2 separate regions of the Homo sapiens genome follow, and region 2 is linked to region 1. The links come from fine-mapping of genetic effects on gene expression. Tissue or cell type: monocytes. Region 1 holds a variant in brackets; the other region holds the start of a gene. All regions are shown on one strand. Distances are from middle to middle.

The links. PIP is the estimated chance that this variant, and not a neighbour inherited with it, causes the effect.
Region 2: NDFIP1 starts here. The variant in region 1 is fine-mapped to the expression of NDFIP1 in monocytes (TOPMed, PIP above 0.99). The same link has a PIP of 0.9 or more in whole blood.

The regions. Positions count from the first base shown.
Region 1 is chr5:142,159,884-142,167,256 of GRCh38, forward strand. All of the region lies in intron 2 of LOC107986455 (a long non-coding RNA gene), which reads right to left. LOC124901096 (a long non-coding RNA gene) reads left to right here and starts at 3,691. Exons shown (of 2, transcript XR_007058978.1): 1 at 3,691-4,080; 2 at 4,358-7,373. The variant G/GA (reference allele first, on the strand shown) is at 2,771.
Region 2 is chr5:142,105,319-142,112,691 of GRCh38, forward strand. NDFIP1 (Nedd4 family interacting protein 1) reads left to right here and starts at 3,461. Exons shown (of 8, transcript NM_030571.4): 1 at 3,461-3,719. The coding sequence starts at 3,657. RefSeq lists an enhancer at 3,212-3,713 and silencers at 3,291-3,560, 3,621-3,750, 3,821-3,890.

The sequences.
Region 1 (7,373 bases):
GTAGTATAAGTCAGCTCCAGTAGCAGTTATTATTTTTTAACTAGATGGCGGAGCATTTACACACTTAGTTTATTAGTGACCTTCCCATAAAATTTTTAGGAACACAGGGCCAAACAGAGGTCATAAGTTTATCCAAGCCAACCCACTTCTTTGGTGACATCAGACAACTGAAGAGAAGCCAAGAAAACGTTCCCTCCATCTTCAAATTCTATGTGTCCTTGGCTTTGCCTCCATCCATAGTGGTTTATTCCCCTCAGAAAGAATTGCAGATGGAATTTGTATAATCACCTGTGTTAGAAGTGATGATCTACTTTGAAAAATACAGTTTTTATGTATTATAAATAATTGTGCTCTGCCTTCTTGCATATAGTTGCTTTGGGCCTTTATTTGATAAAAACTATCTTATTAGCCAGTTATGACATACATGACTTTATGCTGGATGTAGTATATACAAAGATTTGTACAAGACAGCCCCTGAACACAAGGAGGTTTTAGTCTGGGAGGAGATTGGTAGGAGACAAAGTGCTTTCCTGTCCAAGAAATCTTAATATGTAATGTTTTTCTGCTTCGTTTGCATAGTGATGGAAGAAGCTTTTTACACTTTTCAAGCTTGCTGCTAACTTAATTTTCACCAGAAGGGCACTTTTAAAGATGTTCGTAAAACCAAATGCCCTCAAAGGAGAGATTACTGCCACTTGAAGAGGCCACCCCCAAAAGGGCCAAAAGGATGGGGGAACATCTCAGGGTGCTATGTGGCCAGGACCTAGAAAACCAGCTGCCAAGGGGACTTGTGACTGTTAGCCTAGGGCTTGAGCCCTCGCTCCCCATTTACTGGCTGTGTAATCTTGGGTCATTTGCATGTCCTATCCAAGCTTTGGTTTTCTAATCTGTGTGCTGGAATATTTTCTCACAGGGCCATTTTTAGGGAGGTAAAGTGCCCAGCATCTAGCAAACAGCTCTTCACAGCTGATCAGCTATAGTATTGGGTCTAAGGGCAGGACATGAAAAGCCCAAACCTATAATTCAAACCGAGGGAATTCATTTCCTTTTCAGGACCGTATAGCTCTCATAAACCCTGCCTTTCCTCATTCCTTCTTTCCTAAATGTCATTAGGCCATCCCTGATAAATCAGATCATTCTTATCCTCCTAAATTCCTGCAGCCCAGATGAGAATATGATTTACTATTGCTTTTCTGGTAATATTATCATATGTTTATGTGGGAACTTATATACATGTTCATTTGATCTTCACAGATTACTATAAAAGGGATTATTTTGCGTTCTTTACCACCAAGCAACCAAAGCCTCCCTCCCCCGGCAAATAATTTTCCAACACTCACTAACATCAAAACACTCTACAGATTCAATAAACTTTGATTCTCATTTCCTTTCCTGAGTTCTATAGGCTGAAACTCTGGCCTCTTTTTTGCTTAGTCCATTTGTATTACATTACAAGACTTGCCGTATACTATCTTTGTATGGATTTAGGTATTCGAAGCAGCCTTTGAACTTCTTATCCTTTGCTTTGTTTCTTTCTGCACTGGCCTTACATTCTCTGCTCTTTTCCCTGCCCTTTCCATGTCTTCTTTGCCGCCCTCTCGACACCTCCCCCTTCCCCTACGTTTCCAGTGCTGCTTAGATCACTCTTGTTACTTCTCTGTCCTAAATTCCTACACAACTGTAGATAGGGCCATTTTCTCAGTGGCCGCTCTCCCTTTCCTTTCTCCAAATCTTAACCCTGGGCCATTTGAACCCTAGTTACTTCTTTTTTTTGTTTTGTTTTGGTTTTTTGGTTTGTTTGTTTTGAGACGAAGTCTCACTCTTGTCCCCAGGCTGGAGTGCAATGGCGTGATCTTGACTCACTGCAACCTCCGACTCCTGGGTTCACGTGGTTCTCCTGCCTCAGCCTCCCGAGTAGCTGGGATTACAGGCGCCTGCCACCGTGCCCGGCTAACTTTTGTATTTTTAGTAGAGATGGGGGTTTCACCATGTTGGTGAGGCTGGTCTCGAACTCCTGACCTCAGGTGATCTGCCCGCCTTGGCCTCCCAAAGTGCTAGGATTACAGGCGTGAGCTACCGCGCCCGGCCTAACCCTAGTTGCTTTCTATCTTCCCATTCCATCTAGCCGCATCCAACAAGAAAACCACATGCCTGCTTTCTCTTCCTGAAGCTCTCCAAGGAACGTTCCTGTATGCCCCTGGATAGATGGTTCCAGCCTGTGTCTGTGCCCCCCAACCCAGTCCTGCCAATCCAAGCCTGCCCAGATAGGGCCTGCCTGTTTTCCCCTTTATTGGGGGATCTGGGGAGCTTTTCACAGTGGTGGCATTTGTCACAGTGTTCACAGGCTCACCTCTTCATGCCCCTTCAGTACTAGTTTGGCTTGGCCATTAAACAGAAAGCATTGGGGTGTCCTCTGCTCTTTGTTCTCTCTCACTATATAGATCACCTCCAATGGCATCTGCATGAATCTATGACAACTCTCGGGCCTCCATGGAGAAGCACCTGGCTAGTCCCAAATTTCATAATCCTTCTGATGCTTCTGAATTACCTTCCACAAAACACTAGGATTCTATAAACTTTTAATTGGAATTTTATCTTTTAAAAACAGCCTTAATCATGTAATAAGATGTATTTTCAAATATGTGTTCAATTGTGTGGTTATTTGTGATCTCATTTACAGACATGAACAAATACTAAAACAATATATAAATAAATTTACTCAGAGTATTTGGGATCTCAGATTTTGTTTTACAAAAAGGGTTCTGCAGCT[G/GA]AAAAAAAAATGGCTTGAAAACCACTGCCCTAAGTAAACACTCATCTCTTACTTTGCCTAAAACTGTTAGACCGTTATACATTTTTTTTCCTCCGTCAATCTTACAGGGGTTTCAAAATGCCCTGATTTTGCAAAACTTATGAGCACATCTAAAAAGTCACTTTCTAAGCCTACTATCTCCAAAAATCAACTGTTTGTTCTTTTTCAGACTTGTTTTTGTGAATTTATTATTTTTACATAGGTAGTACTAGCATACTGGCACAGCCCAGTGAGATGAGGTCTCTTAAGCCATTCTGTTTATATCAGATGTTAAATTTTTTAAATAGTCTTTGCTGCAGTGTAGATTATCTTGTCTTTTTCTGCTTTTCAGCTCGTTCTGACAAATGCCCCATGATGTTTTTGTTTTTGTTTTTTGAGACTGAGTTTCACTCTTGTTGCCCAGGCTGGAATGCAATGGTGCCTTCTCGGCTCACTGCAACCTCCACTTCCCTGGTTCAAGTGATTCTTCTGCCTCAGTCTCCCGTGTAGCTGGGATTATAGGCGCCCGTCACCACACTCGGCTAATTTTTATATGTTTAGTAGAGACGGAGCTTCACCATTTTGGCCAGGTTGGTCTCGAACTCCTGACCTCAAGCGATCCGCCCTCCTCGGCCTCCCCAAGTGCTGGGATTACAGGTGTGAGCCACCACAACTGGCCTCGATGATTTTTTTTTTTTTTTTTTTTGAGAAGGAGTTTCGCTCTGTCGTCCAGGCTGGAGTGCAGTGGCGCAATCTCGGCTCACTGCAAGCTCCGCCTCCCGAGTTCACGCCATTCTCCTGCCTCAGCCTCCTGAGTAGCTGGGACTACAGGCGCCCGCTACCACACTCGGCTAATTTTTTGTATTTTTAGTAGAGACGGGGTTTCACCGTGGTCTCAATCTCCTGACCTCGTGATCCGCCCGCCTCGGCGTCCCAAAGTGCTAGGATTACAGGCTTGAGCCACCGCGCCCAGCCGATGATGGTGTTTTTAAAGCCAACTTCTAATACCTCTTTTTTCCATTGCTTCATTGCCAAGAGGAATAATTAGACTGTTGCAACAATTATGACAAAGGCGTCCTATACCCTTGGTCTTCTTTCATCCATAGGGCATCCAGAAGAGACCTGGTTTCTCTGTTGATTGGAAGTTCACATCAAATTCCTTGACCCTGGGATTAAACCTACAGTAAACATGTGTATTTTTGTGTTGCAGATGCGTATCATAGATGGATAGTAATGAATACCATTTATTGAGCATTTATCATGTGCGAAGTACTCTGCTTTCTTCTTCACAGGTAGATTTAATCATCTCCCCAACCCTTTGAGGTAGGGAATACTGTGATCCTTGTTGTATATTTTTAAAAAAATGGAGACTCATGTTAACTGACTTGCCCCTTACCGTCCTTAAGTGGGGAGGCTGGGATTAATTTGGTTTGTGTTGTTAGAGCATGAACTCTTTAACAACAATAGAACACTCATCATCTTTCCTGTGTGTGCACCTGCTTCCATTTCTTTTTATTCTCCTGTCCCTTCTTGATCTACACTTTAACACATTCCTTTCTCTTCCCACAGGATTCCCTTTATTGAAGGTGGGAATGAGGGGGATTCTGGACTGCAGGCACAGGACATCTGCCCTCCCACAGCAGCCTGAGATGTTTTCTTCTTTGTGCATGTTCCCCATGAAGTGGGCTCATACCCCTCCATCAGTGTGCCTCCCCACCTCACCTGGAGCGTGGCTTCAGTGCCCCCACCGCCACCCCCAGCTTGTACTGCAGGGTTTTTTTTTATCCTTTCTCTAAGCCAGTGAGATAGGCACAGCTGATAGTATGAACCTTTCTAGCTAAGAGTCAGATCAAGTGCTGGACAGAGACATGACAAGTTCTCTCAATTAAGCAAAATGGTATCTCGAGACAGGATTTCAATTCTAATTTCATATTAATAGCTTACATTTATTCAACATTTATTGTGTTCAAGTGCTGCTACAGTCCTTTTCACGCAGAATCTTTTAACCCTCCAGAATTGAACAGCAACAGCGCTATTATCCCTATTTTACACTAAAGGAGCTGGCTCCCAGAGAGGTCAGGTCACCCGGTGGACGGAGCAAGAATCCAAATCAAGGCATTCTTGACCACTAACCAATACTTCTCCCCCTACCATCATCCCTGCCCCCACCCCTTTTTATTTTACAAAGTTAACCCGTGTTTATTATGGAACATCTTAACTCTGATTTTTAGAAATCTGCCTTCTGTCAATAGCGCAAAATAGAGTGTTTCATTAGCCTCTTAAAATGCCAGCAATTGTAATGTATACAGATGTGAACCTTCATGGGAAGAGCGTGTCTTTATGTTAGAGAAGAGTGAGTAAAGCTGCCCAGTTGAGGTCATATATATTGACTTATCTGCAGGAAATATTCATTTAGATTTGAGAAGTTATGATTGTTATCAGTCTCATCCTTTAAATTTAACTTTTATTTTTTATACTCAATATTTAGATCAAAATCTGTTGCAAATCTGAAAGGAAGCTATAATCATTTACTGTTATCAATATACCTTTCTAGTAGCCTTATACATAAATGCTCGAATCTAGTCCTTCTCACACTTTAATATGCCTACAAACTACCTGGGAAGCTTAATAAAATGCAGGTAATAGTTTAGGAGGTCTAGGCTGGGGCTTGTGATTCTGCATTTGTAAAAACTTCCCAGGTGATGACCAAACTGCCTGGCCAGAATCAAATTTTCATGAGCAAGTCTCTAATCCACATTAATATTCAAGAAAAAAAAATTAAATTCAAAAGTACAACTTTACAGCCTGGGCCTGATGGCTCACATCTGTAATCCCAGCACTTTGGGAGGCCGAGGTGGGCAGATCACCTGAGGTCAGGAGTTCGAAACCAGCCCGGCCAACATGGTGAAACCCCATCTCTACTAAAAATACAAAAATTAGTTGGGCATGGTGGCACACGTTTGTAGTCCCAGCTACTTGGGAAGCTCAGGCAGGAGAAACTTGAACCCAGGAGGTAGAGTTCGCAGTGAGTAGAGATCACACTGCTGCACTCCAAAGTGAGACTCCATCTCAAAAAAAAAAAAAAAAAAGTAGAACTTTACAAACACTACAGTGCATTTTCTAGAAAATTTTTTCTAGGCCGGGCGCGGTGGCTCACGCCTGTAATCCCAGCACTTTGGGAGGCAGAGGTGGGTGGATCACGAGGTCAGGAGATCAAGACCATCCTGGCTAACACGGTGAAACCCCGTCTCTACTAAAAATACAAAAAAAATTAGCCGGGCGTAGTGGCGGGAGCCTGTAGTCCCAGCTACTCAGGATGCTGAAGCAGAAGAATGGCCTGAACCCGGCAGGCAGAGCTTGCAGTGAGCCGAGATTGTGCCACTGCACTCCAGCCTGGGCGACAGAGCCAGACTCCGACTCAAAAAAAAAAAAAAAAGAAAAAGAAAAATTTTTCTAAATCTCCATTGTTAAGAGATCACTGTGAGGTAGGGTAGGGAGTGTGGGGAAAGATTGGGGCCCCCAGGTTTGAAGATCAGCTTGGTCTTGCCTGTGTGCATGTATCTGATAAAATGCAGGAAAAGTTTGTCTCTTCCCCACCCTCACTTCCACCCACTGTGAGGCTTGCTCATGTCCAGATTGGGCTCAGGATGGCAGTTGTGGATGCTCAGAGCACAAAAGGCTTCTTGTTTGCCCAAGGGCCTATCAGTGTTTAAATAGAACTGGCGGAAGCACAAGCACACCGTATCAGCAGCTTATCAGGGACCATGGTTTTCCACGTACATTTGCTAGGCACTTCAGTTTACCCAACTCCATCAGCACTGAGTTAAATTGCAAGGTTGGGCTGTACTACGCTGAGCCAGGGCAGGGAGAACAAGCCAGTTACTGGGGATGAGGGTGTCGGGGGGGCCCTCAAGACCTTATTTGCATTCTGCCCACATAGAGAATAAAGCTGTGATAGCCTGTGTACTAAGAGGCACCCAAAGAGAACCAGTCAGTCTTAGGAATGCACCCGGAAGGTGGGATGAGTCCAGGCCTCCCTATGGTGGAAGTAGTTGGAGATACCTCTTGTTACCCTGGTTTTCCATCTTAGTTTACCAGGTGTATAGTCAGTGCGGGTTATGGTTAAAGGAGGTGTCAATTGGGGGCCTGTTAATGTCTTAAAATTGTATGCAATTTTGGGGTTTGCAAATGCGTCTGCGTGCATATTTCTCTGGCAGCTGACCTATGAATCAAAGGACTAAATGTTCTTGTACTATTCGGGCTGCATCTTCTTTGAGGGTAATCTTCAGGGCAGATACATGGGTAGCCTACTTTAGAAATGAGGCCTTTGCAATTATAATCACTCCTACTTTCTAAGCACTTGCTATATGCCAGGTGCTGTGCTAAATGCTTTATAAATGTTATCACATTTAATTCTCAGAAAATCTTATGAGATAGGAATTTTTATTTCTAAAAGAGTTATAATTTGCCCATGATCACAGAGCTAAGTAAATGATAGAGCTATGATCGGAACTTCAACTTTCTGATTCCATGTCTGTTAGCACTGTGGAAGGCTGTCTTTGGCATTTTAATATACTTATCAAGT
Region 2 (7,373 bases), 55 kb before region 1:
TTCTTCCCAATCCTTACCTGATTATCCCAGCTGGCCACATAATTCTCTTCACTATCTCTCAGCATTAGTTAATATAGCTCAACACAGTTGTAAATAACTTGTAAGTTTTATATTTTAAAAATGTCTCAAATAAGTGTTTACTATCATCTCTATTTCATCATGAAGACTCCAAAGGTTAGAACTTTCTATCTCCTGTCTATTTATGTCCCGTATTTCTCTCCACACCCAAAGCAGTGCATACATTTTGGAGCCAGACAAATCCCAGTTTGCGTTTCGACTCCACCGCTCACAAAGCTGAGTAGGTTATGTAAATTTCCTGAGTCTCTTCAAGAATCTGCAGAATGGGTTTGTTATGAAGATTAAGCAGATGATGTACCATCAGGTCCAAGATTCTGGAAGTGCTCCATAACAGTAGTAATTATCAGTGGATAATTTCTTTATTTGTAATATGAAGATATTACCTTTTGCTCTTAATGAACCTTGTGGTAATGTAGTGAGAATTAAAAGAAGTAGTAAGTCATAGAAATAAAACTTCATGGTTTAATTGGAGCCCTGTGAAGACTAGCTGGAGAAGTTCAAGGCCTCAAATGAGATATTAGACTAATGAGGCTTTTGTCTAAATTTAACACATTTAACAAACCCTTCTTGGTTACTTACTGAGCTCTGCACTACCTAGGTCAAGCCTCATGTGGATATGAAAGACAGAAGGTCACATTTATCCTAGAGATTTGTATCTATATTGCAGGGGGAAAGGGATACGGACATGAGTTATGCTTATACTTGTCCATGTTTCTTTTCTCTCTCAGGAGGGATGATTCAGAGTCAGCAATTCACATATGCAGTACTGCACATGGAAAGTATTACTGTTATTCTGTGGGGAAATAAGTTTCTAAGTGCAGCAATCTGAAATTAATAACTTTCTCTGTGGAAACTCTCTTGACAACATCTCGAGATGAAGCCAAAGAGCACAATTTTTATGGCTTTGGATTATCTTCTCTGTCTGCTTGGCTTGCACCAGGCATGGATCTGTGAGCCAGAAATTCAGTTTTCCCCTTCGTTGTACAATTTGCCTGCCAGCTGGAGGCCTAATATAGCAGTGACTCAATTTCTCAATTCTCCAATTTATCCACCCATCAAATCAAGGCAAATAATCTCAATTTACTTATTAGAGGCTTTGGGGAACTCAAGAAAAAAAAGACCAAAATCTTTACCGTGACTACAAAACATTTTGGTTGAGGACATAGGAAAAGGAGATTAGAAGTTGGAGATCAATTTTCTTTTACTTTCAATGCAAAATATTTCTATGATAAAGCCTGTTATTTATATTATGATAAATATTTGTGTCCACATGCAGGGAGTATATAGATATTGAGGGAGAAAGTAATTTAGGAAAGAAATAGAAGGGTAGCAACATCTTTTCCACAAAAGCCACAGCACTGCAGACATGCATAAAGATTGCAGTTGTTGCTCCAATAGCCTTATGTGGTAGGCCGACAAATTCTTTTTTCTTTTTCTTTTTTTTTTTCAGAGATTGTGTCTCACTATGTTGCCCAGGTTGGTCTCGAACTCCTGGCTCCTGGGCTCACGTGATCCTCGAGTCTCAGGCTCTCAAAGTGCTGAGATTACAGATGTGAGCCACTGTGCCCAGTGGACATTCTTTTTTATTCTTTCTTACACGTAAATGTAGACAATCTGGACAAAGAAGTCTGGATTTCTACTTTCCACTGCTGACATTTTAAAAAATTTCAAATTAGATTTTTGCACCCTTTATACAAGACTACATGGCAGGACATTATGTTTGATTCACTGTACCTGATTACATTTAAATGTTGTTTTTCTGGATTATAAACAACAACTGAGGGACAGAGTAAGGAGGCTCTAAATAGACTTGAGAGCTTGGAATGTTGCTACATTTGTTCGCTCTCCCAGCATGTTAATATGTGAGACTAATACTTGGAAATAGCGACAGATATAGAGGAGTTTGGATGCTGAGAGAGAACTCAAAGTGAAGATGGTAAACATCTAGAGTTTTTATTGATTACAATTTTCTCATATATACAGAAACCTCAGGGTGTGTTCTAAACACAGTTCTCTTTTAAAATACATAATTAACTAAACTTCAAAATTAGAAGCTAAGACAATAATCATATTAATATAACCTCTACACTGCCAACTTGGAAAGGCAATGAAGAAGAAATGGGAATTGCAACAAGCTTCAGAGATGGAAGATTTTGTTTTTCTCTGTAGGACATGTGGGTAGAAGCAATTGCAGATGGCTGGGTGTGAAAGAAACAGACCTTGCAAGCCTGCTATATAGCTATACTGTGCTACATGGCATTGGGAGGTAATAAGATTTAAAAGACAAATACTCTTGTCTTCACAAAGCTTATAATTTAGTTGTGCAATACTGGGTAAGAAAGCTGGCTTAATGGAGTTGTATTCCAGCTTCACCCCTTAGTAGCTCTGTGTCATTGGGTGAGATATTTAATTTCTTTGGGCATAACTTCCTCATCTGTGAAACACTGATAATTGTATCTCCTATATGGCAGCTATGCCAGCCTCCTTTCTGTTCTTCCACAAGACAATCTCTCTCTGGACCGCCCTTTGCACCTGTTCCTGTGGTCGGGAAAGCCTTTAGCATGGCCAAACCCTTCAAGTTTTGACTTCATGTCACCGAGTCAGGGAGCTTTTTTGGAAAATATTGTTTCCGATTCCGCAGATGAGGCTGTTAAAATACTAAAGGATGGCATAAACATGAGGATGCTATTATAATCATCCACCCTAAGTAGGATTTGAGATCCAAGCAGTTCTCAAGGATTTAGGGTTAGCAAACTTTTTCTGTAAAATGTCAGATAGCAAGTATTATAGGGTTTGCAGGCCATACCAAACAAATGGGTGCTGCTGTGTTCCAATAAAACTTTATTTATGGACACTGAAACTTGAATTTCATGTACTTTTCACAGTCATGGTGGCAGACCGGATTTGGCCCCCTCCCTGTCGCTGGCTGACCCCTGGTTTATGAGTACGGCAGATAAAAGAAGGGAGTGAATAAGAACCACGATTCTGCTGCCAGACACGAGGGATCAGGTCGCTGCTGTGAAGATTGTCAACCTCTCTGGTTGCCAACGACCTCGAGAATGGGGTTGTGGTCCCTGCGTCAGGGCGGTTGTGCTGAAGGCTGGATGAGGGCACGTAGGTGAAGCTCAGTGCTTGGCACGAGGTGCTCATCAGCAGCATCGCCCTTGCTTTGGGCTGGCCTGTTAGTAATTCGTTTTTAGTGGAATCGAATACAACACTTGAGCCTCGGAGGCTCAGGTCGTCGGAGCAACTACACCAGGGCCGGTGCACCTCGGGGCGGCGGCGCAGGACTAGGCTAGGCCGGGCCGGGCCGGGCAGGGCGGCGCGAGTCGGGGGTGGGGCGGCGGCGCAGCGCCGTCGTCGTAGTCCCCGCCTCTTCCCCAGGGGCCGCGTCGGAGCCTCGGCGGCGGCGGCGGTGCTTACAGCCTGAGAAGAGCGTCTCGCCCGGGAGCGGCGGCGGCCATCGAGACCCACCCAAGGCGCGTCCCCCTCGGCCTCCCAGCGCTCCCAAGCCGCAGCGGCCGCGCCCCTTCAGCTAGCTCGCTCGCTCGCTCTGCTTCCCTGCTGCCGGCTGCGCCATGGCGTTGGCGTTGGCGGCGCTGGCGGCGGTCGAGCCGGCCTGCGGCAGCCGGTACCAGCAGGTAAGCGGCGCCCGACTCCAGCCCCGAACTCCGGTCCCTGGCTCTGCCCTGCCCGCTGGCCGCCTCAGGCCTCTCTGGCCGGCCCGCGGCCAACTCGACGCCGGGGCTTGGCAGGCCGCGCTGGGCCTGGAGGGGCGGGTCGGGCCCCGGGCTCGGATTCGAGGCTGCCACGGGCCCGGCCTGCCCGTCTGCGACCCCAGGTGGGACTCCGGCGGTGGAAAGTCCTCCTCCCGGCCTCGTTTCCCGCATTTCCCAGGGCGGGCGGGTCCCTGAGTCAGAACCCGCGACCCACAGGCGGCATCGATCTGAGGCATTCGTTTTTCATTTTTCCACCTTTGGTTTGATGTCATTGGAAAAGAAAGAAAGAAAAAAGCATGAAACGGAAACTGGGTGGAGAGAAAAGATTAAAATCTCTGCTGCTGCCGATAGCTCCCCACAGCAAGATGCTATTGCTCAGGGTTTCAGAGCCTAGTTTGTCGAAACCCATCCCCCTCGCCTCCGTTTTAAGACAAAAGTAAAAAATGAAGCAAGAGACAAGCCCGCAGTTTGCAGTAGATTTGGAAGAGGCGATGTTTGGCTGTGGTGATGCCCCAAAAGGGAGAGCTACGATGAAGTCTGCAGGGCGTGTGCCGGGTGTATTTTAAATGCTTGGAAGTGACGTTTTAAGAGATTTGATGGCATAGCTGGGGAGGAAATGTATAGGAAATGATTGGATCATTTTCTCGGGTTTGATTTAATACATTGAGGCCCCAGGGAAAAGAGCTGCTTGTTTCACTCCGCGTCTGTAGCTAAGTTCCCCCAGGAAATTTAGAGACCTTCTGCAGGGTTTTTGGAAGTGTTAATCTAACATACAGTAATGGTGGGAATTGAGCCAGGTGGTAAACTGATGTTGATTGGAACCGCAAATAACGGCTTGTGTTTGTCATGTTTCAGATGCTTTCGGTGCATACAGATGTCAATCCTCCTTTTATCAAATAAAATGTCCTATCTTAGACGATCTACAATTTTATATTTTAGAAGTAAGGAAAGCCAGCCAGTACGATGAAAACGTAGATTAACCCTGGTGCGGCCGGCCGGTTACTGGTTTGTTTTGCTATCATCAGCCATGTGTTGCAATCCGTCCCCACTCAGGCTTGGACTCCCAAAATGACTAGTTAAGAATTTCACTTCTTGGTTTTATAAACACGGCCCAAATTGTGGCAATGCAGTTAATCCTTAGATCTCTTCAGAGCACATGGATCTAGCACATGCTTTTTTTCTATGACCTTGGGCAGCCTGCGGGTTCCTTACTGCTTTAATAAAATGGGAATAACAGATGCCACTTAACTGTCACCACAGTGTTTGCAAATCACCCCTACTGTATACTGTCATCTGATTTCATCCTTTTCATCCTGACTTGGATAAGGCTAACGAGCAAAAGAGCTGTGGTTTTTCTTTGTACTGCCATCTTCTTGAGCTATTAGGTAATGCTGACATACTGCTAGAATATAAAAAATTTGCTGGAGTATCAAAATCATGTATTCCTTAGTGTGGCATTTAATATTTTTTAATTATGCAGAATTGAAGTATAAAAAAAAGAGAAAAAAATCTTCCTAGAAAAATTGTAAAAGATGAAAGCCCAAAAAACTGCAAAACCCTCCCTAAACAAAAACCAAATAGATAACCAAAGGTAATATTTTAATGTGCATTCTTGTGGGTTTATAGCTATGTAAATATACATAGTTATAGATCAGTATATGTGTGTACAGATAAGGAATGCAGGAAAGCTAATATTGATTTTTTTATGCAACAATCACAGTATTAAGTAATTTACATCCATTTTTTTTTTCTTTTAATTCATACCAAACCCTTATGAACCAGGGTTTGTTCTCATTGTCAAAGACTCAAAGTGGCTCAGTAACTTGCCTCAAGGTCACAGGCTGCTAAGTAGTGATTATAAGGATATACACACACTCACCTACTTAAAACACAGGCTCACAGTCCAGATATAGGTGTATGCATTAGCAGATATATACACATGCATATGTATTCTCTTATGTACCCATATATACGTATACAGACATATCTTTGTACATTTGTGTGCAGTTTTATGAGCCCCGATCATACTTGCACATACTTTTGCACGTGTCCATGTGTATCTTGTTCTCAGACATGTGCATTCATACATTTGCACATGTGTATCATGCACATGTATCTACAAAGGCATGCTAGATAAATAATGAAATAGGTTCATAATTCTATTTTGTAATGTTCTTCACACAATGTTATTAATGTCTTCTATATAAAATATTTTTAATGTCTGCATGGCATGTAATTGTATGGCTGAATCATAATTTAACTAATTGCTTATCTTTGGTCACTAAGAATGTTTACAGTTTTTTTCATTGAAATTTATTTCACATACGTCTTCAACCGTTTCCTTAGCATAAATTACTAGCCATGGAAATGCCTGGTCAGCGAATATGCATTTTTAAAAGGCTTTTGAATTATAGAATGATGGTGAATTGTCCAGGCAACTTGATAGGAGCATGATACTCTTTGGTTGTCACACAGGGCTGTTCTGACTTCTATTTGATCTGGTTAATCAAATTGAGCTAGTTTTCTCACCAAGTAAATGTAATGGAAAACTGTATGATTCATTCATAAATGCAAACACAGTTTTGTCTTTATGGTCTTTTTATTGGTAGTGTAATATGTGGACAACTTGAATTTAGCATAGTGACAGACTATGCAGAAAGGGTAGGCTCAACCAGGTGTGGTGGCTCACACCTGTAATCACAGCACTTTGGGAGGCCGAGGTGGGCGGATCACTTGAGGTCAGGAGTTCGAGACCAGCCTGGCCAACATGGCAAAACCTTGCCTCTACTAAAAATACAAAAATTAGCCAGGTGTGGTGGCACTCACCTGTAATCCCAGCTACTTGGGAGGCTGAGGCAGGAGAATTGCTTGAACCTGGGAGGCAGAAGTTGCAGTGAGCCAAGATTGTGCCACTGAACCCCAGCCTGGGTGACAGAGTGGGACTGTCTCAAAAAAAACCAAAACAAAACAAAACAAAAAATGGCCAGGCAAGGTGGCTCATGCCTGTAATCCCAGCACTTTGGGAGGCCAAGGCAGGCAGATCACAAAGATCACGAGGTCAAGAGATTGAGACCATCCTGGCCAACATGTGAAACCCCATCTCTATTAAAAATACAAAAATTAGCTGGGCGTGGTGGCGTGCACCTGTAGTCCCAGCTACTCAGGAGGCTGAGGCAGGAGAATCGCTTGAACCTGGGAGGCAGATGTTTCAGTGAACTGAGATCGTGCCACTGCACTCCTGCCTGGCGACAGAGCAAGACTCTGTTTAAAAAAAAAAGCACGGTGTGGTGGTGCACATCTGTAACTCCAGCTACTTGGGAGGCTGAGGCAGGAAAATCACTTGAACCCAGGAGGCAGAGTTTGCAGTAGGCTGGGATCGCGCCACTGTACTCCAGGTTGGGTGAGCAAGACTGTCTTAAAAAAAAAAAAAAAAAAAGGCACCGAGGTGGGCGGATCACAAGGTCAGGAGATCGAGACCATCCTGGCTAACATGGTGAAACCCCATCTCTACTAAAAATACAAAAAATTAGTTGGGCGTGGTGGCACGTGCCTGTAGTAGTCCCAGCTACTCGGGAG